Linked DNA regions of Homo sapiens. The protein of the gene in region 2 purifies or fractionates together with the protein of the main gene of each other region. This does not show direct contact. Each region holds a gene or a part of one and is shown on either strand. Other genes may lie near its edges. The genes, in order: DYRK1A, PRKAR1A, AKAP11 and VAPB.

Region 1 (8,334 bases), on a different chromosome or scaffold from region 2:
TATGGAATGTTTTAAATTATCTTAAATGTTACTGCCTCTAAAAAACTGGACTTATTTTTAGATATCTTGCACACAATAATGTGTTAAGTTTCTAATAGGTTCCACCAAAATATTGTTAAAAGGTTTAAGAGATGATCTTATACTTAGATCTCAAAACAAAGATCTCACTAGGTCATTTAGTCCATTTCCCACCCCTACCAATAATTACCATTCATTCAGGTCTATTCCTTCAAATATTTTTTCAACACCCACCAGGTAAAAAGGAGTGTGCCTTCATGGCGCAAACACAAGGGGTGACCCTTCCTCCTGCAATAATCTCTGAGCTTATGCCTCTCGAGGTAAAAATGAACTTTTTACAAGAGAACTTTTTACTAGTCTTAACAAGAGAACTAGGTGTAGACATTGACAGAAATCCTTAACTTTCTGGCATGGTTTGAAGTATAAATAAATTTGGACAGCTACCATAAACACCACTGCTATACCAGGGAAAATCCTCCAAAGTACTGGGATACCTGAAGTATGCGTAAAAAATCTTGACTATAATCAAGTAAGCTTTTTTCATAACCAGTTTCTTTGAAATGATCTTCTGCAGCTTAAAACCTTAACACATGAAACTTTAGTTCTGGTCTCACATTTTTAAAAGTCTACTTGAAAACAATATTATCCTAAAGTAACTGATCAAGACATGAGAAATTAAACAACACAAAAGCTAAAGGTAATTCCCCTGAGTTATTAAAACACCTCAAAATCAAAATGCTAAATATATTCATTAATACTTTGGACACATAAACTATAAAAGGGTCACAGAGGAACCCTTAAGCATTCAAAGAATAACTAAAAATAACTTTACACAAAACTTTCTTATGACTCATCAATACTCAAAAAATGACTATAATCAAAATTGTTTGAAGTACAAAACACATCAAGGAATATCTTTAATTCCTTTCATTCAAAAATTGACTACATAGTTTTCTTGGGGGGGGAAAGGCCTGAAAAGTTTATTAACAGGCCTCATCACCATTACCTTACCTTTTGGCCTCGGCAAGCCACAAAGGTAATTCCACGCTAAAAACCTTACGGGGACACATCTCTAGGTTAGAACCCTGAGTCATTAAACACGAATCACTCCAAAATTTGCCAGTATTTCTAATAATGAGTTACACCCTAATGATTCACAACTCCAGACTGGCTACAGCCTTCTGGCTCCTGGAGTCCCAGCTGTATGACCTTAGACCAGTCAGTGCCCCTCTCCAGACTCACTCTCCTCATCTATAAAATGGGAACAGTTCCTACCGGCTGGGCAAGCTGGTCGATCCACTGAAAACCCTAAAAACAGAGCCTGGCACTTGTGAAAACAACGTTCTAAGGCGTATTTTCTGACAATTTGGGCGGAATTCAAGAACCAAATGGTGCTAGCATTCCTGCGCTGTGCCCAGATTATGGGATTCGTGTCACCTAGGGTTGGGCGAAAGGCACAGGCAAGTAACCAGAGTCACTGACTCACTAATTTTACCATTTTTAACTATTTCAGATTAGGGAGGAGCCTTTCGCCAAGTACTGAGCTACTCAGCAGCTTTGGTGGCTCCGAAGCGAGAGTGGGTTTGTGCCTATAAATAGACTGGTGAAGTTTTGTGGCGATACACAGGTATCTATTCTAATTCACCTCTCCTCAGCCACCAACTCCCCCGGCTGCCGGGCAGGTCATCCCTCCACCCCGAGCCGCCGGGGACACTCGCGCTCCCCGCCCAACTTCGGAGGCCAGTGAGTGCCCCTCGCTCCAGCGCGGACCCCCAGGGCCGCCGAGGCAGCGGCTCCCGACCTTCGCCGGCGCCCGGCCCGGCCCGGCCCCGCCGTCCTCGCCCACCCGGCAGCCGGCCCCATTTTCTTAACCCGTGCATTGTCCTTGCGAATCACCCCGGCGGTTCCCACACTGGTGGGGACCGAGAGGAGGGACGAGGGAGGAGCTGGGGGAAGAGGATGAGGAGGAAGAGGAGGAGGAGGAGGAGGAAGACAACCTCCACCCCTTCGCTCGGGCGGCCAGTGAAGGTCTGGCGCTGTCTACGGCCCCCCAGGCCCCGGCTCCCGGGAGGCCGCGGCCCCCGCTCCCACCCTCCGCAACTTTCCCTCCGCTCGCGCCCGCCGCTCCTCCGGGACCCGGCCTGAGGCTCCCTCCCCCGGCGGCCGGCCCTGGGCCCGCGGCGCCTCCTCCTAAAATGGCAGGTCCCTCCCTCCGCCCGGCCGGCCTCGGCTCCGGCCCGGCTGCGGGCCGCCGGGGGAGCCGAGCGCCAGGCCGGGCGGGGCCGCGGCCGGGCCGGACACTCACCGGGACGATGGCGGGGCGCTCGCGCCGCTTCCTCCGGTGAGTCTCAGCCTCGGGCTCCCGCGCCGCGCTCCCGCCGCGGCCTCCGCAGCCAGCGCCGCCCCGGCAGCCTCTCTCCGCCCCCGGCGCTCCGGCTCCTGGCCGCGCCGCAGCCTGCTCAGTCTCTCCTCGGCTCGCGGTTCCAGCGGCGCCCGGGGCCGGGGAGGCGACAGCCCCCTCCCCGGCAAATACCGCAGTCCCCGGGCCCCGATTCCAGGCGGCGGGGCCGCACGGCCGGCCCGGCGCAGAGGGCGGCGTCGGCGAGGCCGGGCGCCGAGCGGCGGCTGCTGCCGGCGGCTTCTTCCCGAGGAGGATTTTGTAAATCTCACAAAATGGCGCGCGCTCCGAACCTGCGCAGCGAGAAGCGCCGGGGCCCGGGCGGCGGCGGCGGCTCCTCCGCCAGGAGAGCCCGAACCGCCCGCCCCCGAGTCCCCGCACAGACAGACAGACACTCGCACACACCCGCACACTCGCGCGCACAATCGCCCTCGCACACGCTCCCTCGCACACACACTCGCACTCACACCGGTCCCGCCTGCTCGCCGGCGGCGGCAGCGGCACCAACAGCAGCAGCAGGAACAGCAGCAGCAGAAGCGGCGGCGGCGGCGCCCGCACCCCCCGCTCGGGGTGTCCGCTCTCTGAGGCCGACCTGGGCCGCGATCAGCAGCAGCGACAGCAGCAGTCTCCCCGGATACCCCCGCCGCGGTTGCCGCCGCCACCCCCGCCTCACTCCAATGGGGCTTTTTATTATTATTCGGGCGGGAAGCGAAAGGGTTTAAAAAAAAACCAACCAACAAAATGGCGACGGACCGACCCGGTCGCTATAGCAACTGTCAATCAAAACGCAAAACCCCGGCTGACGTGCTGACGTCCTCCTCCCGCCCCCCAGCCCCGAGCCGGCGGGCGGGGCCTGTTGCTCAGGTAACGGCAGATTCCGTTCCCTCCTTTCCGTCTCCCCCTCTGTCCCCAGCCAACCACCCAACCCCCTCAGGTCACGTGAAGGATAAATTCGGAGCTCGGGTCCGCTACGAGTGTCAGAGGAGGGCGCGTGATTCGCCCGGGGGAGGGGAGAGGAGGGGGACGGCTAGGCCGAGGGAGGGTAGGGGCTGGGGAAGGGGGGGCGAGGCGGCGGCCAGGCCTGTGCGCGATCGCCCGCCGCCTCCCGGCCGCCCCGCCCCGCCCCGCGCCCGCGCCGACTGCGGCCCGGGGAGCGCGCGCGGCCTCCCGCGCCGCCGCCCCCGCAGCCCTAGCGCCCCGCGCTTCCGCGTCGGCGCCCGCAGCCCCGCCCGCGCCGGGGGGAGGGGCGGGCTGCCCCGGGCGGGGGAGGGGGAGGAGGAGGGGCGCCGCGGCCTTCGGGCGGGGACCCGGGAAGCCCACCCCGCGCGCCCGGGCCTGGAGGGCTCTCACCGCGGTCCGGGCGCCGCGCTCGCCTCTCTCCCCGGGAAGCGCGGCGGCCGCGACCGTCCGCGCGTGGAGCCGGTTCTTCGAAGGGCTGGCGGGCCTCCTAGCCGGAAAATGCCGGCGGAGGCCGTGGTGGGGGCGGGGAGGAGCCACCGCCGCGCCCCAGACATCGCAGGAATTCCGGACGCTGCGCCGGGCCCGGCGGCCCTGAGGCTGGCACCTGGCTCCGGTCGGGCCGCCCAGGTTTTGTGGCGCCCGAGACCAGCGTTGGGAAATTAGGCTGGAGCCATCATGAAAACTTTTTCAGGCAGTGCACGCTCGCCTGTGCCTGCCCATCTGCTTCCAACCTCTCCCCACCTTTCGGGGCGCAGCCTGCCTGCTCCATCGGAATGCCCTTTAGATGAATCCCCTTGTGCTGTTACTGTGTCCTTGTCGTCCAGCTCTCTGGTTTTCTTTTCTATACACCTTCTCGGTTTCCAGAGTCTTAATTCGCCTGCTTGTCCTTAACCATCAAAACTCTTTATTAATATCCTGGCTTTCGCTGATTTTTATTCTCCCTACCCCTTCTCCCTAGCTATGTATTGCTGGGTGAGCTCCCGAGGCTTGAAAACCCAAGTATGCTGTGCTGGCTGCGTTGTAATCGGTAGAGAGCCACCAGCTAAAAATTGTATTTTGTACCAACTCTAATGGCATTTAATAAATGTATACCTAAAAAGAGTGTGTGTGTATATATATACTATTTTACAGCAGAGTCACTAATTGATTTCTAAGCTTGATTTTGCCACCTTGTGATAGTGTTCGTAACCAATTTTTTTCATAAATTTCACAAATGTGACAACAGATAAAATCTTATAAACAATATTAGATGTAAAAAACTCGCAGTAAATGCCGCTGTCTATGCTACATGACTCAAATACACCTGCTTTAAATGATTTCCAGCAAAAATGTCCTTGCTACAGTTACTAGGACATTGATATACTAAGGTAACCATTCAGATTAGCACAGACTTTGAAAGAAATCCGACTAAACCGAAAATAAATTAGTCAAAAAGTAATTACTAAGGTAACCATTCAGATTAGCACAGACTTGGAAGAAACCTGACTAAACCGAAAATAAATTGGTCAAAAAGTGGTCGGGCAAATAGCTTGCTTTCAGGCTGATCTCCATGATATAAAAAAGTTGCCGTAGCTGGCAAAAGTTCTTTCGGATTATTGTTTCAAAATTGCCCTGCTAGTGTGATTAAGGTCCACGGTCAACTTAATTGTTTTGAAGAAAGAGGAAGTGGCCCAGAGCGCCCCTTATTCAGAGGAGAGGTCCCTACCTGGTTCCTCCCAAGCTCAAGCTTCCACCTATACAACCAACTTCTTCCTCTCTGCTTGTGGGTCTCCTTCCTGCCCCCACCCCATCCCACCCCATTCACCAAGCTTTCGCTTCTATCAGAGCACATCAGCATTTGCAACCTTTAATACTAAATTAAATTTGACTCAAATTTTTATTCCTGGTAATGGAAGAAACTTGTATAGTTAATCTTCCAGGTAACCTGAACAGAATATGATAATGTCTCAAGATATGTGTCCTTGTCTTCAGTTCAAATCAACCTAGAAGATATCGGAGTGGGGCAGAATCTTGAGATTATAAACATGCGGGTATAGAAGGCATTGCTGGTCTTCGTATCTAGAAGGCTGCACCCCTTTTCTCCCCAGTGTGACAGCCTTAGACAACATTGGTCAATGAATGTCATATCCAGGTTGGAATGCTGTAAAATGGTTTTATACAGGCTTCACCTAAAAACGTAACCTGTGAATTACAGCTGGCTCCAAACAAGTGACCACATGTAGGCCGGAAGGACTCTGGTATAGATGCCAGCTGACCTGGTTCACAGATGAAATCCTTGTCATCTAAGAATCTTCCCATTAGATTCACTTACAGATGTGTTTATTCATAGACTGTTCACCTTGAAAAGCAAAGGCCCTCAGCTCATAGGTAGTAACAGCCTCCACTTACCCAGCATGTTCTAGAGTATCTCTAATCCTCACAGCAACATTACATCCCCATTATGTGGATGAGAAAACAAGTCCTGAGTGATTACATGACTTTCTCAAGGCAGTCACCACTCACCAGTAAGTGGTGAAGCCAGGATTCAAACACAGGTATAATTGCAAAGCCCATGTTCTTTCTACCACACCAAGATGATTCAAGATTATATGGAGTTAGAGTCTTCACAGAGGTAATCGAGTTGGGTCTCTAGATTGAACCCTAATCCAAAATGACTGCTGCCCTTATAAAAAGGAGAAATTTGGACCAAGACAAACGAACACAGGGAAGAACGTACAGACACCAGGAGAAGGTGGCCATCTACAAACCAAGGCACACCTGAGGCTACCAGAAGCTGACAAAGAAGCATGGAACAGATTTTGTCTTACGGCCATCAGAGGGAACCAACCCTGCCAACATCTTGATTTTGGACTTCTGGCCTCCAGAAATTCAAGACAGTACATTTCTGTTGTTTAAGCCACCTAGTTGTTTGTACTTTGTAGTGGCACTAAGGGAAACTAACACACAGATGCGTGCCAAGATGGTGGTTTCTTTTGGTTGGCTTCATATCCGTTAGTGACCACTCCTGGTGAGGCACTATTCTAAGCCTGAAAGTCCAGTAGTTGGAATCTCGCTGAGAGTTATAACCCAAATAAATATTCCAAGGACAAACAAGCAAACCAGTATTCCTATCAATGCTCCTCACGCCAAGCGAGAAGGTGAACAATTTGCATTTGGTCCCTAGACAGTGGCATGGCGTGGCATCTGACACCCCTACTGTTCTTACAGACTTCTGGGTAAAAGTCTTCACTTGCTGCCCTTGTACAAACTTTATTGTTCGTTCGTTCTTTCTTTTTTTTTTTTTTTGAGACAGAGTCTCGCTCTGTCACCCAGGCTGGAGTGCAGGGGTGTGATCTCGGCTCACTGCAACCTCCACCTCCCCAGTTCAAGCGATTCTCCTGCCTCAACCTCCTGAGTATCTGGGATTACAGGTGCCCGCCACCACACCTGGCAAATTTTTGTATTTTTAGTAGAGAAAAGGTTTCACCACATTGGCCAGGCTGACCTCGAACCCCTGGCCTCAATTGATCTGCCCACCTCGACCTCCCAAAGTGCTGGGATTACAGGTGAGAGCCACTGCACCCGGCCTTGTTTATTCTTATTTTTAAGGTAATTCGTTATCTAAAACAGATTACAAAGAAACAAAATTAATTAAAACAAGAAAAAGGCCTTCTATAAACTGACAATGGTAGTATGCTATGAAATAAGAAGTTAATTCTTTTTTTTTTCCTTTTTTTTTTTTTTGAGATAGGGTCTCACTCCGTTGCCCAGGCTGGAGTGCAGTGGCAAGATTACAGTTCACAGCAGCTTCCACCTCCCAGGCTCAAGCAATCCTCCCCACCTCAGTCTCCTGGGTAGCCGAGACTACAAGCGCATGCCACCACGCCTGGGTAACTTTTTGTATTTTTTGTAGAGATGAGGTTTTTCTGTGTCAACCAGGCTGGTTTCAAATTCCTAGACTCAAGCCATCCTGCCTCCTCAGCCTCCCAAAGTGCTGGGGTAACAGGTGTGAGCCACCACGCCTGGCCGAGGAGTTAATTCTTAATTCTTTGTACCTAAGGTCCAAAAACAAAATGTAACAGTCATGCATGGTCATTACAGACGATTTTACAATATGGAAAACAATGAAGAGGGAATGATTACTCGTAGATATCACCCAGGAAAAAAAAAAAAAAAACCTTATTGGTATTTTCATATTAGCATATGTCCTTCCAGATTTTCTTAGGGAGACATGAGTACATTCACCCACATACAACACTGCAGATATGTTTCATGCCGTTTTTACTTACAATTATACTATGAGCACATTTTAGTGTTAATCAACTGAAATTTAGATAATCATTTTAACAGCTACTAGTATTCCATCAGTTGAATAGGCCATAATTTGTTTACCTGCTCCTCTATTTTTTAAGGAAGTTTTTCCTTTTTGTTGTTGTTGTTACTACAGATAAAGTTGTATAAACATGTCCTACATCCATTTTACACACCTGTCCAATTATCTCCTTCAGATAAAAGTATGCGTCCTTAAAAAGCTTTTGATTCATGTTACCAAAATATTCCTCAGAAGTGATTCCACCAATATGCACTCCCTAAAAGTAATGTGTGACAATGGCTTTTTCCTACACCCTGCCACACCCTCTTATTTTTATTTGCATTTATTTGGACATTTTGTGACTTTTTAAAAATATGTTTGTTGTGTATTTGTGCCCTGCCTGTGTATATCTATCTGATGCCTATTTGGGAAAGCAGAGAAGTATTTGGGGTTTTTGGTTTTTTGTTTGTGGTTTGTTTTGGTTTTGTTGTTGTTGTTTTAGACAGAGTCTCCCTCTGTGGCCCAGGCTGGAGTGCAGTGGTGTGATCTCAGCTCACTGGAACCTCCGCCTCCCAGGTTCAAGAGATTCTCCTGCCTCAGCCTCCCGAGTAGCTGGGACTACAGGCGCCCGCCATCATGCCCGGCTAATTTTTGTATTTTTAGTAGA
Region 2 (7,760 bases):
TCTTTCGCAAATCAAACTTTACTGAAATACCACATACATTCATTTACATATTATTTGTGGCTGCTTTTGCACTATGACAAGAGTTGAGACTTTGCGAATGAAACCCTATGGTCCACAAAGCTTAACTTACTTACCACCTGGCCCTTTACAGTCTCCTGACCCCTGATTTAAATAAAATCAATTAGCAACTATGGAGCCACATTCATAGAAATCTGCCACTTGGATCCGCTTAGCAAGAGTATCTGCTATACATTTCCATGGAATGTGGAGATATACAAACACAGTAATTTTTCAAATTTAAATAATTACCTTTAATCCTTATTTGCCAAATAGCCCAAACACTTGCATTTTAACAAGAATAGTGCAGAATCATCACAGTTTGTTATGTTAAATGGTTTTTAGAATTTGGCTTTTCATGTCTAGGGCCCTTCAAGAATTCTGACTCAAACTCATTTAAAAATATAGTGACCTGGCAGAAAACCAAACAACAGCATTTCAAAGTAAAAGATAATTTTAAAATAAAATGGTCAGGTATTCTTAAAAACTAAAGCTATAGTTCAGAATTAGCCCACTCTTTCCCTCTTAGAGCGTACAACTTTTTAAAGTATTAAATTCTGAGTTCTTTACCTCTAAAATTCAAGTATTAAATTCTGAGTTCTTTACCTCTAAAATAATGAAGAACTCATCCCCTGGTTCTCCCTGCACCACAATCTTCTGCCCATCTTCAAACTGCACTGGTTCCAATGCATCAGCTACCGTAAGACGTTCCCACTTGTCCAGAGACTCTGAAAGACAAGAATCAAAATAACTGCTCTGTATTATTTGGTGCTGTTATAAAGGTAAAAAGAAAGTATAAAGAGATTCAACCAAATAGCCATGCCCATTCAACATTCTAGTAGTGTCTCAGATTAAAAGTGGTACCTGTCTTCAATTACCTCTAGTCTGAGCAGGATTCTCATACTGCCTGCAGATAGCCCTTAGATCCTTACTTCGGTAGCCCAGTGGCTAGGTTAATTTATACCAACTGTACCAAATGGCAAGGGAATAAGAAAATGTAATCCTTAAGTATTCCTGAAGATTGCCATCAATGCAAATCAAACCTACAACTACAATACTCAAAAGTCATAGTTTCCCCATCCATATCGTTCCAAAGTTTCATAGAAATAATTTAATCTATTTAAATTCTTGGTTTACTTTATGAAAAAGAACTAGAAAATAACTTTTATTCCCAAAGGCCAAACTACTATCCAAAACACAAAGCATATGTAACCAATTCAAAGAAAAGACAAAGAAGAGGTGAAAAATTCACTGTAATAAACAATGGCAGAAGCCTGTTACCTTATAAAAATCCCCATTCCCCTTTCATGAAGAACAAGTTCTAACATCTCCAAGTCCACATAACAAAATGCACAAAAGAATATCTTCAATTAATCTGCTTTACTCTAAATTTCAACAAACTTCTGGCATGTTTTCAGAGGATGCCAGCAAATGATACCTAATCTTTCCACAGAGGAAATGTATTGTTGGAAGTACTCACTTTTCTGAACCAATCAACTCAATGATGGAACAAGAGAGACGGGAAGTCACAGAGGAAATAACTGTGAATGTCCACAGTCAGAAGGACTTTCAGCCCTTCTGTCTTTTCAGGGGGAATGAGTAGCAATTATACTTTCAGAAGGCTTTTCCCAAGTCCATCCAATTCTAATTCAGGGGTATCTCACATACTAGCAAAGTTAACACACTTTACAACTCACCTAAAATAGAGACTTTACTAAGGAATTCCTCATACATCTTCCGCTTTCTCAGTGTGCTTCCCTAAAAATAAAAATAACAAAAGTGATATCCCCAAGACGTGTAATTATCACCACATAATGCTATGGAATAATAAATATTAAGTTTCAAATAAATTTTAAAACCAGAAAGTCAAAGCTTGTTGCTTTTAATGAGGAAAGTTTAATTTTAACTAATTCATTTTTATTTTACAGGTAATGAATGATATGACATTCTTGTGATTTTTATTTTCCGCCAATATTATGCCCAATTCCTAGCATTTGCAACCAGTATGTTGACATATTTCACAAAGCATTTCCCAACTTCCAAATACAGTCGAAATACCGGTTTATACCTGAGCCTATCACTCAAGATATTTTTCCACACACTTTAAACCAATGTCCAATTTCCATGTTTACTCTCAAACTGATTTTGTGCCACTGCCAACCCAATTTATCTCTGAAAATATTTTCTCACAAAAGTAATCTAGGTCATTTACAACCCAATAATCCTAGTGTTCTTCCTGTTCAACGCTGGTATTTAAATGCAGATTCCTCCATTAGTTCTGGCTTCTCACCTATACAATTGACATGTCTTTATTCTATAAAAAAAGGACCATATCCTCCCCTACCCAGCTATATAGATATTTCACCCCATATCTACAGTTCCTAATTCCTGTCCACAAAGCCAAAGCATTGTGAGGCCCTAATTTCCTTTCAGGCCCACTATGAGAAAGTAAAATATTTTATTTCAAACCAATAGTTCCAGGTCCTACCTCTTCCTTCTTTGACAATGAGATAAAGCTGTAAACATTCTATGTTTCCTTTTACTAATAGTATTCCTGTAGAGGAAATGCAGAACTAACTGTATGGTCAGTTTCTTCTCCAGTAGACTGTCACATCACTTCAAAACCAATCTTTCTAAAATTTAGACTTATCTTTGCCATAAGCGTTTTTTTGTGTGTGTGGGTTTAAGGTTCAGGGGTACATGTGCAGGTTATATAGGTAAACTGGGTGTCACAGGGGTTTGGTGTTCAGGTAATTTTGTTGCCCAGGTAATAAGTAAAGTACACCACAGGTATTTTTCCTGATCCTCTCCCTCTTCCCACCCTCCACCCTCAAGTAGGCCCCAGTGTTTGTTGTTCCCCTTCTAGTATCCACGTGTTCTCATTGCTTAGCTCCCAACTGTAAGTGAGAACATGTGGTTTGGTTTTCTGTTCCTGTGTTATTTTGCTTAGAAAAATGGCCTCCAGCTCTATCTATGTTGCTGCGAAGGACAAGACTATCTATCTAATCTAATCTATCTATATATCCCAAATGCAGAAAAATTTCAAAGTACATCAGGCTGTACATTTTCAAATGGTCAGATGGACACTGCACAAATTTAAGAAAACCATTAAAAATGACCAATGCATTGGCTGAGACTTAAACATCCAAAGCTATCCTATAAATTTATCACAACGTTCTCAAAAAATCTGACTATCACCAGAAAGTTCCAATGGTTTTAGTATTTTGTTTATTCCTTTAACGAGAGGGGACATGACATACATATACATTACTGATAACCCACTTTCACAGGTTAGGGAAGCTGATTATTTCTGAATGGCCCCAAATAACTTTAAGCACTTAAAAGCAGCACCTATCATGCTGTAATGGGTATAACTAGGTAAATTAAGATGTGCCTACCAGCAAATGGATAGATTTCCAAACATGAGATGACCAGCACATATATACCAGATCTTGTTTCCCAAGGTTTTGTTCTAAAATATCACTGCCTAAAATGGCATAATGAATAATGCTAAGCTGGGCTTAATGCAAAGTATTTGCTCATTAAAAGAAAAATATTCGCTTATTAAAAGAAAGAAATATTTGCTCATTAAAAGAAATATTCTCTTTTTAATTTGGTAATATTCAAACATTAGTTACGTAGATGAGAATTCTAAATCACACTCTCAAACACCATGGTCTCTTACCATGAGGATTCTTCTATAGCTGTCTCGGTCGATGCCCCACAATTTCACATTTGTCTTTGCTTTGACAGTGGCTGCTCTCGGTGTTCCATAAATCAAAGCAAGTTCTCCAAAGCTCCCTCCTTCCCCAACACTGGTTGCCCATTCATTGTTAACATAGACCTAAAGTGCAAGTGACATCAAAAAAGTTTATTTTCTAGATACAAACACTTAAATGTTAAAAACCCTCAAACCTTTTTAAAAGGTCACAATCCTGAACTTTGTTTTAAAAAACAGAATATATTATGTTTGCAGTACACAACAGAGAAGAATAGGTGATTTCTGACGAGTTAAATGAGTTAAGAGTGTCTATAATTTACCTGATTTAATTATCTGATAAGAAAAAAGCACTCTGTAAGGATGTAAGGGAAAAAGGTCAGCTAAGCACTAATACCAGTCACAGATACTTAGAGAACCGTGCTGAGCACTATGCTAAACATTTTACTTGCATTAGGTCACTGAATCTTCTAATAATCCTAAAAGATCAATGCTATTATTGTCCCCATTTCATTTGTGAATAAGAAAGGTATATTAATTTTGCTAGCTAATGGCTGGGTCTAGAATCTTTTTTTTTTTTTTTTTTTAAGAGATGAGGTTTCACTTTGTTGCCCAGGCTGGTCTTGAACTCCTGGGCTCAAGCAACCCTCTTGCCTCCATCTCCCAAAGTGCTGGGATTATAGGCATCGGCCACTGCACCCAGCTACACACACTTCTTCACCACCACTCCAGCAAAGTTCTGAACAGAAAATTACCTTTAAAGAGTTTCTCTGTGTCATAAAAATACTTGGCAAAAGGTATTAATAAAATCTGACATACAAGGGATGTAATGACCCTTCAAAATCACTATTCTTATTGCTCGGAAGCGATCAATACATTGGCTTTTAAGATCAACATATTTTTGATATTGGTAAATCTTACATCCGTCTCTCCTTGATCAATCACATAGAAGTTATCCCCTTCATCACCTAAAAGAGGGTAAAAAAGTTAGAAGCATATTCCAAATTAAAGAAAGAAATTATCAAAATTATTACAAAACAATAAACTTATTTTACAGTGGTACTGTGAGAGTGTGTTACAAACTAACACAATCTTTCAGGGGAAAGAAAATCAAGCAACATATTTTAAAAGTCATAGAATTAATCAAAATTTTTTTAGTCATCTCATGGTGAAGAATACCTCTGAAAAAAATTTTTAAAAGCTACATATGTGTAGTTATTAACTGCTATGGCATTTATAACAAGGACATTAGAAACAACTCAAATAGTTAATAACAAATTATCAGGCTGCCACAAAATGAAAATATATACCCACTCATAAAATGTCAAGAATAAATAAGAAAATAAAAAGAGGAAGATAGTCAAAAAGTTAGATCCATGTTAGTCTATATAGGCAAAGTAAGAATCTATAGAAGTCCTAGAACCTTTTTAATAGACAGGGCTATACAATGAAGAATGTAGGTGTTTCATTTATTTCTTACTTTAAAAGTGATTAACAATATAAAGAACATGAGAGATATATATGATTCTGCAATTCTATATGACATTCAAGGTAAGACAATGTAGGCATTTCCTTTAAATTATAAACAAAACTGTATCAAAAATATTAGTTCCCAATACAAAGTGTTCTGTCCATCTCAGAAAATCTTAATTTAAAAGAAATAGAAAAATCCAATAGTATAACAGAAAAAAAAAAGTGGTAGGATCAAAGAGGAAAACAAACTTCAATAAAACAAAACCAAAAAAATCCTCTAGTCTCGCCTCCTCTCCCGTAACAATATTGCATGCTCCAGAGGCCCTTACCTTGCTGAATCACAGTCTCTCCTGCGATAAAGGAGACCGAAAACATGGCATCAAAAATATCACTGCAAAAGAGAGAAGGCCTCGTGTTACATTTCACATGTCTCTTCCGTGAATTTCAAACATTAAGCTTAGAATTAAAGACCCCAGACTGTCATCTGGTGAACAATTACTAAGAGCTCTAAAACTTGCAACAAGTGTTGAAAACAATTTGGGATCACACCCTTACTTGAAAAATAGTGTTAAGAAAGAGCCTGTTCCTACCTTCTCTCATTATCATCAAGATGTGAAAACAGCACATTCTTTTCAATGGCTTTGGCTAAAGCGGCCATTGTCTTGTAATCTTTTGGTATAACCTAGAAAAGAACTGAAGGTCAAATGACAATTCCATAAACCAAAAACATTTCACGTTTGCAACCTGCGCTTCAATTAAATGTCAAGCCACATTATGGTATTTAAACAAGACTGCTTTGTAGTGTTTCACTACAACACACTTGTACTATCTTTGATCCATAAACTACTCAACAAGTATTGACTAATTAATCCCCTTGCCTACAGCCAGGCCTAAATATAAAGTCTGGTACTTGGTTCCCAGTTAACAACTAAAGAAACAAATCAAAACACCTGGACCAAGGTCATTATTCTGAGGCAAAACTAAGTATTTTATAATAATTAGTCATTTTAAAAATCTGTGATCTGTTAGCTTCACAAGCCTCAAGTGCCAGGACAATTCTGTTCCCCTTTAAGGCTAACAGCATAACTCAAAATAGCCTGGCTCTGAGGAAGAGGAGAACACAGGACAAATGAGGCTCGTAGAATAAAAGGTTAAAAGCCACAACATTTAATAGGATAGCAAAAAAAGGACATCACGATTCAAGAGAAAAAGCAATACCGCCCACCTCCTTCTACTGCAAAACAACTGCAAGGAAATAACAAACCCCAAAATGCAATTATTCACTAGTTCATAATCACTATTAGTTATTTCCTCTGACAGCATGCTATTACAGAAACCTGTTTTCCAGTACCCAAGAATTGTACAGGATGGATGAAGTTCCACCCTGTTTTGTATTTTATGATTCATTCATCAAAGGAGACTAGATGACCACCAAGTGGGTCCCAAAAGCATCCCCCCGATATTCAAATATCAAAACTACCTTTCTAACATAGGATGCCGCATCTTCCTCCGTGTAGACCTCAGCGCTGATAGCACCTCGTCGCCTCCTACCTTTAACCACTGGGTTGGGTGGAGGAGGAGAAATCTCATCCTCCCTTGAGTCTGTACGAGTGCCTGCTTTCTGCAGATTCTGAATCTGTTTTGCCTCCTCCTGAAAGAAATTACGAGTTTGCAAAATGAGATCCTTCGGCATGTAAAGCTGGCACTCTCATGTTCCAATGATAGTCTATCTCAGTCACTTCCAATCTCTTCTTCCATTAACAATGTAAGTTAAGAGGAAAACACCAATTCCAAAGGGGAAAAAAAGAGAGTAACACTTGAAACACTCTCAACAGAATGTACCTCAGATGATAACAGATGCTATCCTTTATTAATGGGCAAAAGTCATTAGTACAAGCCATTAGTACTCACATAACATGTGAGTAACAAATCAGATATTCATTAATGTCTTGACAACAATTATCTGTGATGCACACAACAGTAACACACTGCAAGACAAAATCCTGAAAATTGGGTTTTTTTGGATGCTACTGCAGATAGCAAGAGACCCTCCTGCCAAAAGAAATGTTATCAGGAAAAACAATTCAAGCCCAACATAGTGATCCAAGAATGTCTAGATTACTGAGTTATTTCATTAACTCAATAAGCCATTTTCTGGATCTGCCAGGCCAAGACCTATGCTAGGCAACAGGAAATTAAAAACAAATAGGAGAGGGTCCTGAGCCTGTGGAATTCACATTCCAGTTTGATCCCAGATAAAAACAAATAATGAAATGATGTGATGGTAACCACGAATTTAAACGAGATCGTATCTATAATACTTCTCCCAGCAGAGCTAGGATCACTCTTTGTAATCAAGGTTTAAACTTGAAGTTAAAAGACAAAAAGAGTTTACTTGCTTTTAAAAACTACTTATTGGACCAATTCAAATAAAACCTAAGATAAACTATTAAACATTCCTTTTTTCACATCTAGAGCCTTAAAAACAAATTCCTCTCAGATCTAAAGAATT
Region 3 (7,760 bases), on a different chromosome or scaffold from region 2:
CATCTTTTGTTATGCTGTGAACCAGAGAGGTTGAAAAACTATACAGTTGGGAGACCTCATTTCTATATGGATCCAGGGTCCTTTCACAAGTTTGATTTTTACAAAAGTAACCTTCATTTCTTTTACTTTGTCTCTTTTTGTCTGCTTCTTGGTGGTGCTCTTTGTTTGAAAACATTAACAGTTCCTTGTTTGTTTTCACTTGTGAACTTGGCACAGGGAACATTCTTGAGTTGCACTGCACTTTGGTTGTCTTAGCTGCTTCCTGTAATCCTGATTTAACAGATCGGTAGGCAAGCCTATTGGCATACTGATCCATTATCAACTCACTATTACCACCTTCCTGTTTTAGTATCTGAATAAGGTGACCTGCATATTCATCTGTCACACTTTCACAGCTGGGATACTTATACATCAGACCTGACATACAAGAACTTGGTGGTAATGAAAGAATAAACGGATCCACTTCTCTTGGGTGCACTACAGCCTCTATATCCAACTTCTCTTCTACTTTATAATCTTCGTCACCATCAGCATAACAACTGTTCTTCTTTTGCTTGAAAAGCATACAATTTCGGACTTTTGCTATTTTCTCAGCTTCTGTAATGACTTCTGCTGCCAGATCACCCGCAAAATTGCATAATGTTTTCAAATTTTCGTCTGAGGGGTTTAAAAAAGTAGGCGACACACTTCTTTGACTTTGCACATTTAAGCAAGGGTTTTTAACCTTGGGTTCTTGAATTATTTTGTTATCTAAATGGGAAGCTGCCATTTCAGTTGCAAGAGAAAGGATGTGTGTAGCTAATGCTTCTGCAAACTGAACCTTCTTCCCTGAGTGCTCCGACTTCACATCCACTTCTGGGAGCTCTCCACTTTCACTACTCTCAACTTCTTCAGAAAGAGATCGCATGAGTTTCAACATGAACTCTTCTTTTTCTATAGTATTTTGTTCATTCTCAGACAAACTACCAACAGATGAGTTGTGTGGAGTAGAAGGTGGTGTAGCAGGTGCAAACTCTTTGGCTAATTCTCCCTTGAGCTTTTTAGTTAACTTCTTGATATCCCATTCAGAACTAGCCCGGGATGGTACTAGAGGAGTTGATGGAGGAGTATCAGGTATTACATTTCTGTCTCTGACTTTCTGTTTATCTTCCACATGCAAACCATCTACACAGGTAAGTGCTGTAGATGAGAAAGTATGTGAATGAGGAAAGGGGTTTTCCTGTCCAAAAGACAAGGCCTCAAGTGATGTACTATTCAAGTTATGCTTTTTCAGTGGTTGATCCTTAGCAGATTCCTTCAAGTCAGATTTCTGACCTGTCACAGCTGGACAAGATGGCAGTGTCTCTAGGGAGGATCCATGAACCATAGAAACTTTACATTCTGGAACACAATCCTTTGCAGCTGAAAGTGAGCAGTGAGTTAACTGATTCTGAGAGTCAGGAAATTTGGGAGACTTTTCTGGTGTCAACTGTGATTCTTCTCCAGAAACAGGCAAGCTTTCCTTGTATACTGCATTTTTATCTATATTTGGGATCACTGATTTGCTCTTATCTATGGAATGTTTAATAATAGATTTAGATAACCGGTCAGCAAACATGTCCTTATTGCTACTAGCTTCACTGCATTGCAGCACTGCCTGATCACAGTGGGAAAATGGAGGGGTTTTCTCCTTTAAAGATTTAGTTAAATAATCTGTACGTTCATCAACCATTTTTGTAACTTCCAATGATGTCATTGACTCTAAAGTTTCATTTACTATCGTATGCACCACTGCTGCAGAAAAGTTGCTAATAATTGCAGGATCATTTGGTAATTTTGAGGAACTCTGCATTTCAATATCGTCATTAGTTGGTTTAAAATCATTCTGATTACCTGGATTGTGTTCTGAAGGTAAACAAATATTTCTGAGACAAGCTGCTTTTTCTTCTCTGTTTTTTGTGGCAATATGCACTTGGGCAGAATCACCATTTGAATTACTATCATCAGATGACAGATGAGCCTTGGCCTGACATGCAGTAGATGAAATATGATATGGGAGAAGGGCACTTCCTGCCAAGGGCACCGGTATAGAAGTAACAATTCCAGAAGTACAAAACAAGGCCTGCTGCACTGTGTATTCCTTTTTATATTCCTGCACTGGTTTTGTCACCATAATTGCTTGATTGTGAAAAGAAGGGGAAAACGTGACAGCCTGTGTCGATGGCACTACACTTTCTGCACTCACATACTTGATATTATCCGTAGAGACACTAACTGCTGCCTTTGTTGTAAAGGTCACATCAACTTGTGATAGCTCAATGAATGCTTCCTGTATTACAGATTCAGACAAATCTTTTGCATACAACTTCACTACTTTGTCTTCAAAGTCAAACGACCCACACTGTGGAGATGCAGGCGTTTGAGGATATGAAAACTGACACACCTCCATGATGCCTTCAAAAACAAGCTCTTCAGCAAGATCTGCAGCAAACCTAGCAACTGTGTTTGTGAATATCTGCTTCTTTACATACTGTAAATCTTTTAAGGCATTTGATAAAGCTTCACTCACCAAAAAGTTAGCCAGGCCACTAATGGCACGTTCTTTTAGTGAAAATGCACGCTGCCTTCTCAGCTCATCAAATGCCATCTGCAAAACAGATGATGTCAATTTGATGGCTAAGTGGTACAAAGCATTGGTACATGAAGAGACTCCTTTCTGTAAGTCTTTAAATGCACTGCCAAAACTTTTTTCCACAAGATCTGCTGCAAATTTTTGAATGCTATCTTTAATCATTAAGGATTTATTTTTAGATTTATTTTTTTGATCAAGGTTTCCATGCTTAAAAGTTACAGTTTTATTTTCTCCATGTTTAATACTGTTAATATTTGATAGGGTATTAGTATGGTGGGTACGAAGAACTGAGCCTAGTACTTCACATGAAATGCTTTTTGCATAGTCTTCATAGGTGTAATAAACAGAATCATGATTTTCATGAATCCTATCTCCACCAATATCTGTTTGGCAAAAACATTCAGCTGGAGTACAGCCTCCAAGAGGACTAAAAGCAGAGGATCGAATAGGACTAAATAAACCACTATCTTCCCTTGATGCCTTCACTGGGCGAGGAGAATCCGGAGCATCACACAGGTTACCATATGGAGATTCTGGTTTACGAGGAGTTGGCTTTCTAACATTAGCTGGGAGAGCTGGACGATCAAACTTGAATTTTTGAGGATTCATACATGACTTTCCATGTTTGTGCCCTTTCCTCTGCGATGACTTCCCTATGACGGGATCTTTGTTAAACAGGCAAGTCTCTAAAGTTTGTTCTAGTTCATCAAACTGATCAAAACTATCAAAAAATTCACTTACTTCTGAGTCTGAATCCTCTATATCATCTTTCATCACAGGAATTTTAGGCAGCTCAAGTTTTGCTTTTAAGCTTTTTTGATATCCCTCTTCATCCAAGAAAATAACAGGACTTGGACTTGAACATTCTGATTCAGATGAGTAGGCAGGAGAAGACGAAAAAAATGTTTTCTGTAAATCACTATCTTTATCTGAAGCATTAGATGACCTATAGAAACTCCTTTGGGTCCAAGGCTCTGAAATTGATGTTGTGACTGAAGTTTTCACAGAAGGTAGTTCTTTATGTCCCAGGACATTCACTGAGGAAGTTGAGGGTTTAGCCAATGACTTCTGCTGTCCAGAGCTAATGAGAATCTTTAAATCATGGGTTTCTAAATGATGACCAGTAACCGTCTGGGAAGCAGCATCACACTGGCTCCTTAGCACAGTAATGTTCATTCCTATAGGAAAAGAATGAAATGGTGAAATTATTTTTGAACAAAACTTTTTGGAAATTAACTTAAATCCATGGAATAAACTGACTTTAAACATATAATATTTATGTGTATCTTCTAAACTATGTTTAACAGAAAGATTCACCCAAGTAACATTTGAAAGTAAATATACTGTTTATAAAATAATTTCAGTTTACTCTATGTCTAGGGATACCTGGTCTATGGGATGTTTTGCATGCTGTCACGCATGTTAGAAAAATTACCGTGGAGACTCTGCCAGCTAACTCTTCCAAAATTGGAACCTAGGAATGTTCCAGACACTTAATGATGTAACCAGTGCGTGAACAGCACCAACTAAATATGAAAACCTGAAATAAGCAAAACTGAAAACCAGATTACAATGAACTTAAAAATCATAAGGAATTTCCTTAGGTAATCAGAAAAAAAGTTAAAAGGTTTAAATTGAATCAAATCTCAACATAAATTTCAACTGAACAAGCCTGCCTTAAAATTTTCAAAACTGAAAAATTTTAATTCCCTATTTTAGGAAAAAGTCTAATGAAAAACAAACCATCATTGTATGGCTTTGAAGTCTCTTCCTCTTCTAAGTGCTCAAAAGCAGTGACAAAGTCATCCTCTATGGATGACACAGACTGGTTAGTATCATCATCATCTTCATCAGTGGTCTCAAGTTGGTGCTTCTGATGCAAGAATGTGTCCAAGGTGTACCTTATACCAGTAGCATATTTACTTAGGAGACTAAAGATAAAATCAATCCTAAGTCTTGGTGATGTAGGTGACACTCTCATGACACAAAGCATTCCAGAAGGATGACTCTTGGGAAAGATAAAAGATAATAAAAACAATTTTAATTTCAAATACAAAACAACATGAAGTAAAGCCTAGATATAAGACAATCTCAGAGAAAAAAACAAACAAGAAATTCATGCATCCTGAAAAGCTCCTTGGTTTTGTAATGTTTACTTCTTAATTCTTTCTCTACATTTTTCACTTTCCAGTCCTTTTTTCTCCCATCTTCTTTTATCCAGGTATTCAAATTCTACCCAGTCTCCTGAAATGTTATGAAACTTACTATCCATTCCTTTGAGCAATTATGTTTTCCTGTATTACTGTACAGCCCTATGATTTTCCTTAATCATTCACCTATCTCACTAACTATTATAAATTGTTTGGGGGCAGCAACCAAGTTCTATTTTCTTTTATTTTTAATCCCATTTTCCCGTAGTTTCAAGTATGATGCCATCTTCCTTCCTATCACAATTGTTAAAAGTCTACTCCTTTTACTTAAATTTCCCTAGCATTACAACTTACAATGTTTATAGCTTTAAAAATACAAGTAACCAGATTTTCCCCCTCATACTACTTTTTTCAAGTAAATACTGATGAAATTATTTATTCAAAAAACTAGAAATCAAATATAATAGCTTATCACCTCTTATATCCTAGCAAATAAAGCAAATACGAATAAAGAACATAATTAAGGAAATGAAGCAAGCAGTTCTAGTTTTATTGGCAGACCTTATAAAGAACAACATAGCAGTTTTTTTAAAACTAAAATAATCCAAATTTTAAATTTTCTGGTTCAATTGTATATGTCTTATCTCTTAGAATGCAAAGCATTTTCTCTGATGCATTATCAACAAAATCATACTTGGTAAAGAACTAAATGCTGAATATTATAAAACTAACCACCTGTAAGAAATGGTAACATTTTTATTTATAAAGAACACATCAGATGTCCACTTTACATGGAATTTTTTTAAACCAGAAAATGAACTGAAGTACATTCTCTAAAACATATAGCGTAACATTTATATAAATTTGAAATTGGCCATAATAGGGAAAAGTCACTGTAGCTTATACAAAGGTAAAAGTAGTTCAAGAAATCCAGAAATAATAAATTTTCAGAAAAAATTAACATGTACTTGCATACCATCTACGGAACTTCACAGTTAAAAAATATAATTTATAAGATATGACCAAAATTATTATATCCTTCAGGGATGTCAATGCTTCATGAGTTATATTTCTTATGAATCATATTTCCTTGAGATACCATTTAAAAAAAACAAATGTCATCCAAGCATTTAAAAGTTTAATCATCTTTATCAAATATAGTAAAATTTGCCCTAAAAATCTCATTAGAAATTATCTACAAAAGTTACCTGATTTAGAGGATCACTGCTTATATCTAATGGTTTATTTATATTCTTCATACAAATAATTTCATTTTCATTTAGACTGCAGAAGTGGAGTGAATTCAGAATATCTGGAAGTTCCAAAGAAACTGCAGCTAAATCCTGATTTAAAATAATAACAATAAGTAACACTGTAGAGTAACACTTTTGTTAAGGTTCCTATAATGTGGACCCTATCCAAAAATTTTAAGGTCTACTGGCTAGTGAATTTCCTGGTTCATAATAGTTAACATATACAGTTTATTATTCACAGATAATTTTTCAAAAATTCAAAAATAAAATATACTAAAATTATTAAATACTGGCTATCCCCGTAGCCTTTAAAATGTACTGATATCAAGCTATAAAAAAATTGTACAGGGTACCTAACACATCCATGACAATTAAGCATTTAATAGTTTTTAGCAATGTCAACATATAGGTCTTAACTTAACTTTATGAAATTTTTTTCATACAAAATTTTTTGCTAGAGAATGTACATCTTAAAAACTTTTTTTTAAAAACTCTGTACAATATAATCCGTTTTTCTATCTTTCCTCTCCAAGGTATTGTATTAGACTTTAACTGATAATTTTAATGAAGATTAAAGGAAAAGAAAATCGCTTTTATTTCTTCTTCTTGTTTGCCCTTTATACACAAATATTTTACCCAGCTAAAGAATTATTAAAGTCTTTGACCCTTTGTAGAGTACTTTCCTTTATAAACATGGTTTTATCAGTAACTCTTAAAGGAGAAGAAGAACATTAAAGAAATATCTTGGAATACTTCTCTTTCCAGCTATGTATGTTCTCAAGAATATATCCTCTCTTGTTCCTTCTGTCCAAATTATTTCCTTCAAGCAAGGCCACAATCAAAATATACAGCAGTTTTTGCCCATAATCACCTGATATGCATTATTCAGAAAGACCTAAAAATGTTATTTCCTCCTCTATGAGGAGACACTTTACTGCCACAAAAGGAAATATGTAGGAATCACAAATTTTTAAGAAGCAGCACGAGGGAAAAAGAAAAGTATGCCTATCATATGTACAGGAACTTCAACCACTGTTTATGTAACTGTGAAGCTTTCCTTTGCTGATCCCAATCTCAAACATCAGTCCCTCTGTCAATAACTGCCTAAATCAAACAGGCTAAATTTTTGCATTGGCTAATTGTTAATTTTTACAAATCTTACCTTTTAAATTTAACTCAATCTTAACTAAAAACATAAGAATTTTTACTGTTAAGGTCAAAATTATTAAAGCCATCAAAATAAACAAACAAGTCATACATTCTGTATTATACACAGAATGCAGAAAAAGTCAGTCTGCGGTTTGCAACCTTCTCAGATAAATGACTTTTGTGGTCAAACCTAAAGCTGATTTCCATGACAAGAATACTCAGTAAAAATGCTAAAATTCACCATACCTGTATATGAGCAGCATCTGTCTCTTCATTAAAACCCAGAAATGTGACCTGAGTAAAGAACAAATAAACCTCCATTAATTTGAATTTTTAAATCTTTCAGGCTGGTGACAGAGCTGACAAACAGGAAAAAACAGACAAAGCATTAAAATGCTGTCTGCTTGAAAAGGATTTTTTTCAAAGATGACCCAAAAATATTTTTCACCAAAGATTGGGCTCCAAAACGCAGTTCTTAAACCTCATCCATTCTCCCTCACTAGCAAGTTCAATCAATTCTAACCCCAAAACATATTTCAAATATATCCACTTCTCTCCATTCCCCAGCCACCCTTCTCACCTACACTAGTACAATCC
Region 4 (7,760 bases), on a different chromosome or scaffold from region 2:
GAGTCTTCTAAAATCAGAACTATACTTGCATTAAAACAGAGTATAGGTCAGTATTCACTCTCTGAAAAAAGATTCTCACCCAAGTGGTTTAAAAATGCATATTCAAAATAAAAACTATTTTGGTCTCAACATTTATTTTCAATTTACAATAATGGAGAGTTTGAGTTGTTTGGGGTTTTGTTTATTTTGTTTTTGAGACGAAGTCTAGCTCTGTCACCCAGGCTGGAGGGCAGTGGCACGATCTCAGCTCACTGCAACCTCCGCCTCCTGGGTTCAAGCGATTCTCCTGCCTCAGCCTCCCGAGTGGCTGGAATTACAGGCACCTGCCACCACACCCAACTAATTTTTTGTATTTTTTATTAGAGACGGGGTTTCACTTTGTTGGCCAGGCTGGTCTTGAACGCTTGACCTTGTGATCGGCCCGCCTTGGCCTCCCAAAGTGCTGGGATTACAGGCGTGAGCCACCGCACCCGGCCAAGTTTTTTGTTTTTGTTTTTTTTTTTAAGGGGACAAGAGCTTCAACAGTTGAGAAATTTCTGATCAAGGGACAGTGGTTCTTAATTTAGGCAGATCCAAGGACCCTTTTGAGACTCTCATGAAAGCCATGGAAATTTCTCCCTGGGGAGAAAAAAATAGCCAAATACCAAAAGCAAAAAGAAATCTATATATTCACTGGCTCATCAACTTCCCCACCCAAGAAGCTAGTGAAAACGCCCTTGTTTTCTGTAGATTACCAGAAAATAAACTATTACCTTGAACTGCTTGTTCTCCTCCCGTAGCCTCTGAACTTCACCTTGCAGCCTCTTACATTCTTCCATAACCTTCTTAACTTCGGTGTCATCCAAAGAAGAACTCAGAGACTTAGACACTATTGGTGTTTCTGTCTTTGATGCAGTTGTGGATATAATTTTATTTATTTCTACATCATGCTGTTCAAAAACAAATGAAAGCCTAAGTGTCACCGACCATGTAATAATGGACTTTTTTATGCAAAGTAAAGTAGTTCTCAGCAAACACCAAACGTGGTAGCATTTCATCCACACTGTAAAATGTCACATTTATTTTAAAAATGGATTACTTTATCTGATATCTTAATAATCTAAAGCAACAGGGCCCTAGAAATTATGGATAAGGGCAAATAATGAAGTTCGGCTGAGACTAATACTTCAAAGAAAGAGAAAAAGGGCTGTGTATATTGCACTATCAAATTCCTGCCACGGAAAAATCAGCATACTGTAATTGTGCAAGCTCAGGAATTATTAGCCACAAATTACTGTCACCACAAAGATGTGAACATCCCTAGGATTGCCTTAGTGGGGTTAGGAGGCTTGGGAGAGCATTAGACAGAGGGCGAATTACTTTACCAACTTAGCATTTGGAAGCTGGGATGAAGGTGAAACAAACTCAGTGTCTGCAATGTTTCAATCTTGGGAAGTTACATACTCCCCTTATTTCCCCTGCCAAGATTCAGCTATGATCCCCTCTTGAGATTTACAGGGGATGAGAGCCAGTCAGTGGAGGGAGGGCATGGAAGCACGCAGCTTGTCAGGGAAAGAGTAACTGACGATCATTGGCCTGGAATCTAGCTCTACCCATCATTTTCCAGATGAGAAGAGTAGGCCCTGTGAAGCAAGGCCCCAGGCTACCAAGTCAACCTATCACAGAGCTGAGGCCAGAATACTGCTTTCACAGCTTCCAAACTGACCTTCCTGTGACAGGATGTACACTGGGAAGAGGGAAAAAATGACCACTATCCACTTAAAGAAACAGGGTAATGATAGTGGTAAATGATTCAGCAGAAATAAAATCTCAGGTAGTTTTGACACAAATCAACAGCACTCGCGCAGACCAACATAGATACTGTTAACACAACATTTCAGGGTACTTCTGTTTCCCAACTCCAGCTATTAATGGCTAGGATAGTTTCACATGCTGCATGCTTTCACAGTTTTGGTGTTTTTATAAAAATTAAAATGTTTTCGACTAGGTTGAAGGGAAGTCCAAATTAGCATTTCAGATACAGTCTCCTTTCTTCAACTGGTCACAAGTGAGGATCATGAAAGGTAAAGCGCTCACAGTGGACAGCCTAGAGGATGGGGCTCCTTCCTTCTCCCCACAGGCAACACCGGAATGGGATCACTCTCAATGGGGGTTGATATTGCCCTCCAGGACACATGTGGCAATATCTGGAGACATTTTTAGTTGTCACAACTGGGAAGTACTACCAGTATCAAGAGGGCAGAAGCCAGGGATGCTGCTATTAATAAAACACCCTACAGTACACAGGGCAACCTCCACCACCACCAAGGATTTGCCCCAAATATCAACAGTGTTGAGGCTGAGAAATCCTCATCTAAAAGCAGCCTTTGATTGAAGAGGTAGATAGGGTAAAAGGGGTAGGGAGGCTGACAGGGCACTTTGTAAAACAAGAGAACTTGAAAGCTTCCCACACGTCCATCAACCACCATGATAAAGGGCAAATTGTTCCCTCTTTCACTCTCACCCACTGTTTAACAGCAACCTATACCTTTGCCAGGCCACAGAAGCTCTTCAGGATTTATGACATCTCAATGGCCATCGGGCTGCACTTTTCAAGGGGAAACACTGTCAATCAGTTGTCTTTCCGTGAGTTTTTCAAAGGCTGATTTCATAAAGGCCCACTTATTTGCTGACTTCAGCTTATTTTTTTTCTTCAGACATCAGATAAAGGAAAATAATTTGCCAACTTAAATCTTGGTTTTGCAGGAAATGGTATGCAAATAAGTATCAGCTTACAACATTCAATTATTGTTAACTATAAATATACTTACTGGTTTATCATTCTCTGCTGGCAATTCAAACACACATCTAAGTTTTGAATCCATAAGGTCTTCCGGTTTTGCCTCCTTCCACTAAAACAATTTAAATTTAATAATCAAGATATTATAAACCTGCTGGAAGAATAACTTTCTTCCTATAACTGACAATTTCAGAAAAATACTCTTAATGAGAAAGCCCTGATGTATATCAAATAAAGAACTGAAGTCTGCTGAGATTTCAATATTTGTAACATGACAAGATTAAATACACTCACTTTCTCAAAATATTACACTTCATAAACCCTGAAGTCTTGCTGCCTGACTCCTCAAAGTCAACCAATGCTCCCCATGTTGCTACTCTGTGGGACAGGCCCACCACTGAACAAAAAGGAATCCTCTAAACAATGTCTGGATGACCAGGTAACCTTGGCTCTCCTTATGAAAATAAAACTTGTTTTCAGCTGGGCATGGTGGCTTATGCCTGTAATCCCAGCACTTTGGGAGGCTGAGGTGGAGGGACTGGTTGAGCCCAGCAGTTTGAGACCAGTCTGCACAACGTAAGGAGACGTCATCTCTACAAAAAAATTAAAAAATTAGCTAAGCATGGAGGCACATGCCTGTGGTCCCAGCTACTCAGGAGGCTGAGGAGGGAGGATCACTTGGGCCCAGGAGGTGGAGGCTGCAGTGAGCCATGATCATGCCACTGTACTCCAGGCTGGGGGACACTGAGAGACTCTGTCTCAAAAATAATAAATTAAATTAAAATGAGAAAATGAAACTTATTTTAAAGGCATATCTAGAAAGTATAAGCGCATACTATCTGGGACTAGTTTCAGAACCACTCTGCCAACTACCAACGGAACACATTCATTACCAAATCCCTCCTCTGTCACTGTGGCAGTGTGTGGGCTGTGTCTACCCCAAGACCCATCTCCATCCCTCCAGGCTGTAGTGAGAGCACCTTCCTAGCTAAATCCCATGTCCTAAGAGGATACGCTCCTGATTACTTCTCCTTTTGGCAGCAGAAGATGGGAATTCCAGGGTATTCTAGGATTACAGACCAGGATAGCAGCAAGGTTATGATATAGAAAAAGAAGGCACCCCCACCCTCCATGCCCTCAACCCTTCCCAAAACCATGCAAGAGGCAGCTACTGTAACACAGGTACCAAGAACCAAAAGTGGGAAGCAATCTATACATCTGACCCTAGGGGACTGCCACAAAAATTATGGCAGATCCACTAAACGGAACAGCATGCTGCCACTCAAATGATGCTGAAGAGCACTCAGTTAGATGGAGAAAATGTCCAGAATGTTAAGTGAAAAAATCGCAAAGAATACTGAAGTCTGCTCCTCTGCACACACACACCTGTACACGTGTGCCTACCACATAAGTCAAAAAAAATATCAAGCAAGGATCATCACTGAATGCTAAAAGCACCAGGTGAAAGACTGCTGGCGAGCAGGATATTCACATGGTCTCAAAGTATCAGATGACTCAGAGTATCACAGATTACCTATTAACCACAGGGGCAAATGTGCTTTGTGCTATGACAGTGGAGAGAGCTGGCAGTCACCATCTTAACCAAGTGATCAAACAGCATCACCAACAGCGGAACAACCTGGTATGAAATACCAACTATGGAATATTCTTGCCAAAACACATTTAACTTGAATTTAATCATGAGGAAATAATCAAATAAATCCAGAATACAGGACATTCTGTAAGTCAACTGGCCTGGACTCTTAAAAAAAAAAAGAAGTTCAAAGTTTGGGCAGGGTGCAGTGGCTCACACCTGTAATCCCAGCACTTCGAGAGGCAGAGGCAGGAGGATCACTTGAGCCCAGAAGTTCAAGACCAGCCTGGGCAACATAGTGAGACCCCAACTCTATAAAAAAATAAAAAAATAGCCGGCATGGTGGCATGCCTGTAGTTTTAGTTACTCGAACAGCTGAGGTGGAGGTCAAGCCATGACTGCACCACTGCACTTCAGCCTTGGTGACAAAGCAAGACTTTGTCTCAAAAAAAAAAAAAAAAAAAAAAAAAGTTCAAAGTTTGAAAAACAAAAAGGTTTGGGTGTCCTCTACTAAAGGTCACTTTTGGAACAACTAGGAAATAATGAATATGAATTTATCACATAATAATACTGAATTGAAGTTACTTTTTTCAGCTATGATTAATAGTATCATGACTATATAAGAGACTGTCCTTGCTCTGAAGCATTTAGGGGTGAAGTGTCATAAATTTGCATCTCAAGCAAATAAGAAAGTTTGTGACAGAAAGGAAGCAAATGTCACAACATGTTAACAAATGTAAATCTAGGTAAAAGTTATATGAGTGGTCACCATGCTATTTTTTCAACTTTCTGTATATCACAATAAAAAGAAAAACATTTTAAAATAAAGAAAAAGCAGGCTGGGGCAGTGGCTCATGCCTGTAATCCTACCACTTTGGGAGGCTGAGGTGGGCAGATCGCTTGAGTCCAGGAGTTTGAGACCAGCTTGGGCAACATGGAGAAAACCTGTCTCTACAAAAAAATTAGCCAGGCATGGTGGTGCGCTCCTGTGGTCCCAGCTACTTGGGAGGCTGAGGTGGGAGGATCACTTGAGCCCAGGAGGTGGAGGCTGCAGCGAGCTGAGATCACTCCACTGCATTCCAGCCTAGGTGACACAGTAAAATCATGTCTCCAAAAAAAAAAAAAAAAAAAAAAAGGAAGAAAAACACAAAGCTCTCATTTCTCATTAATGATGGTTAGGCCTAGTAGAAAAGAACTATGGGTCACTTTAAATTTTTTTCATTTGTGTATTTCCAAAATTTCCCACAATGTACATTTTATATAAAAAAAATTTAAACTTATATCATCATACAAGGAACTAAAATGACCCTTTACTAGATATGCAGTGACTGGCCTATTACACACTCTGATAAGCAAGTGTCAGACACTGGACCCACCAGGCACTTACACAGGCACACTTCATACTCACCACTGTGTGAGCTGCATTTTTATCCCTATTTTACAAATGATCAAAACCTCAACAGAGTTAATAAAACCTGCTCCCAGCCACAACGTCAGTAAAAGGAAGAACTCAGCTCGAAAACACCCAAGCCCATGCTCTTTTCACTATGCCATGCAGCAGAAGCCAAACAGAACACACCCTTGGATCTTCCATTATTTTCTATCTGCCATGTTTCTTTGATCACACAAATTAACATGAAGTAACACATCATGTTGCAGAAAATCAGAGAAAGTTTTCATAAGAATTGTTCTTATGAAAAGAAGACAGCCTATTATCACTGATCTCTCTAAAAGTCAAAAATATCTGGCCTCCTCCTTCATTTTCTGCCTACAAGTGAAACATCAGCGGAGATGCTTCTCCAGAACTTAAACAAAAGGCTATGTGGTGACATAGGGCATGGGGTGGTCTTGGCCTGAGTTGCCCTTGGTATGAAACTCAGACAGAGGAGAACTGCAGTATGGTGTGATGAACAGCGGACTCAGGTGGGCAGACCTGCCGTGGATGACTCGGGGCTCCCCTTTGGGCGGGCCAAAACTGGAGAGCAATGCAAGTGGTATGAGGCAACCCTGTCCTGCTTTCCTGAACTGTAAGGACAAGCGCATCTGTCCCTGCTGGGGCTGTGGGTTGTATTGTAGATTTCAATTCAACTCCCAGCCCCAGAATGCCAATGGACTTATTCAAATGTATAAAAAGCTCGTTTTGGAGGGAATGTCCATTATACTCTTTTTTTTTTTTCCAAAACCATCACTAACATCACTTATTTCTTTTATAAAAATGAAGTCATCTTAATTTTATCAAAATTAGAGAAAAGTTAAACATAGATTTAAGCAGGGGGGAAAATAAATAAGCATATTTACTAGAACAAAGCCACAAACATGTATGTCTAAATGGGTGAGGACATTCAGCACTGACACTCTCACATGGCTCTTGAGTTTGTGGGGGATGAGAAGACAAGTAAGAAAAAGGCGGGACAATGAAAAGTATCCTTTTCTGTCGGGGCAGAAAGGAGAGGCGAAAGAAGGCAATCCCTAACCATGCAAGACACCATCCACCAGTGCAAGGAGCTGCTGAAGCACACTGAGCTCAGGAAAGTCAGAAAAGAACAGCCTTCTAGAAAGTCACAAAAAATGTTAAAATTATTCCTCAAAGTTTTAGAAAAACCATAAAGGTAGATAAAGTACAAACCTCCTTGAAAAAAAACTATTCCCTTTTAAATAATTTTGACATATTTTGAAATGCATGCACCCACAATTCCATATCTAATTGGTTTTTTAAATTATTGTTACTGAAAAAAATAAGAAGCATTCAGTACTTACTACTGCTTCCATATCTGAAGTGTCAGTTGGAGCAAACATAGACTGAACCATAAACTTGTGTTTACTTTTCTCATTGGGATCATAATCGAAAGGCTGTAACATCACTGAGAAAGAAAATATTTCATTAGGAGGGTCAGAGCTTGGTTGTCAGTGCCATTTATTATGCTAATACTTGTACTTTGGTTGTAAAGCAATTTACCGGCATTCTCTTATGTCTTAGGATGGACGCCCCTGGTGAAGTAAGCAAGGATGACCAACATCTCCATTTTGCAGGTCACCAACCTAAGAGCCACAAAATCACGCATGACAGAGCTGGGAATAAGGCCGAGGACCCAGTCTTCTGATTCCTAGTCCATGGATCTTTCACTACTGCAAGCCTACCGTAAATGTCTGCTACAGGCCTTACAGAATTGGGAAACTGGGTAGCAACACCATCTGCCTGTTTTGCTCAAGAAAACATATCCAAATGATCTCTTCAGGAATTAAATAGAATAATCTAAGATGTTTAAGAACATTTAAGGAACTGTTGTAGCTTCTCTCCAACCCATTTCTCATATAGCTAATCAAGGTAATCCTTGAAATACAATTTTGCCAACATAAAGCTAGAAAATTTTTACAATCAGGACACTC

The links.
Region 1: the proteins of PRKAR1A (region 2) and DYRK1A purify together in Homo sapiens (affinity purification with mass spectrometry; 6 studies listed by BioGRID and IntAct, with this or other methods). This does not show direct contact.
Region 3: the proteins of PRKAR1A (region 2) and AKAP11 purify together in Homo sapiens (affinity purification with mass spectrometry; 5 studies listed by BioGRID and IntAct, with this or other methods). This does not show direct contact.
Region 4: the proteins of PRKAR1A (region 2) and VAPB purify together in Homo sapiens (affinity purification with mass spectrometry; 4 studies listed by BioGRID and IntAct, with this or other methods). This does not show direct contact.

What each region holds. Positions count from the first base shown.
Region 1 is NC_000021.9:37,361,618-37,369,951, reverse strand, and holds the start of DYRK1A (dual specificity tyrosine-phosphorylation-regulated kinase 1A), read right to left. Parts: upstream 3,180-8,334; 5' UTR 2,324-3,179; intron 1-2,323. UniProt on the Homo sapiens protein: Dual-specificity kinase which possesses both serine/threonine and tyrosine kinase activities. Exhibits a substrate preference for proline at position P+1 and arginine at position P-3.
Region 2 is NC_000017.11:68,521,895-68,529,654, reverse strand, and holds part of PRKAR1A (cAMP-dependent protein kinase type I-alpha regulatory subunit), read right to left. Parts: intron 6,900-7,760; coding exon 6,729-6,899; intron 5,931-6,728; coding exon 5,839-5,930; intron 5,640-5,838; coding exon 5,578-5,639; intron 4,744-5,577; coding exon 4,697-4,743; intron 3,902-4,696; coding exon 3,743-3,901; intron 1,816-3,742; coding exon 1,755-1,815; intron 786-1,754; coding exon 664-785; intron 1-663. UniProt on the Homo sapiens protein: Regulatory subunit of the cAMP-dependent protein kinases involved in cAMP signaling in cells.
Region 3 is NC_000013.11:42,295,392-42,303,151, reverse strand, and holds part of AKAP11 (A-kinase anchor protein 11), read right to left. Parts: intron 7,458-7,760; coding exon 7,410-7,457; intron 6,105-7,409; coding exon 5,970-6,104; intron 4,620-5,969; coding exon 4,355-4,619; intron 3,790-4,354; coding exon 1-3,789. UniProt on the Homo sapiens protein: Binds to type II regulatory subunits of protein kinase A and anchors/targets them.
Region 4 is NC_000020.11:58,434,076-58,441,835, reverse strand, and holds part of VAPB (vesicle-associated membrane protein-associated protein B/C), read right to left. Parts: intron 7,235-7,760; coding exon 7,131-7,234; intron 2,892-7,130; coding exon 2,811-2,891; intron 2,691-2,810; exon of another isoform or gene 2,528-2,690; intron 930-2,527; coding exon 753-929; exon of another isoform or gene 752-752; intron 1-751. UniProt on the Homo sapiens protein: Endoplasmic reticulum (ER)-anchored protein that mediates the formation of contact sites between the ER and endosomes via interaction with FFAT motif-containing proteins such as STARD3 or WDR44.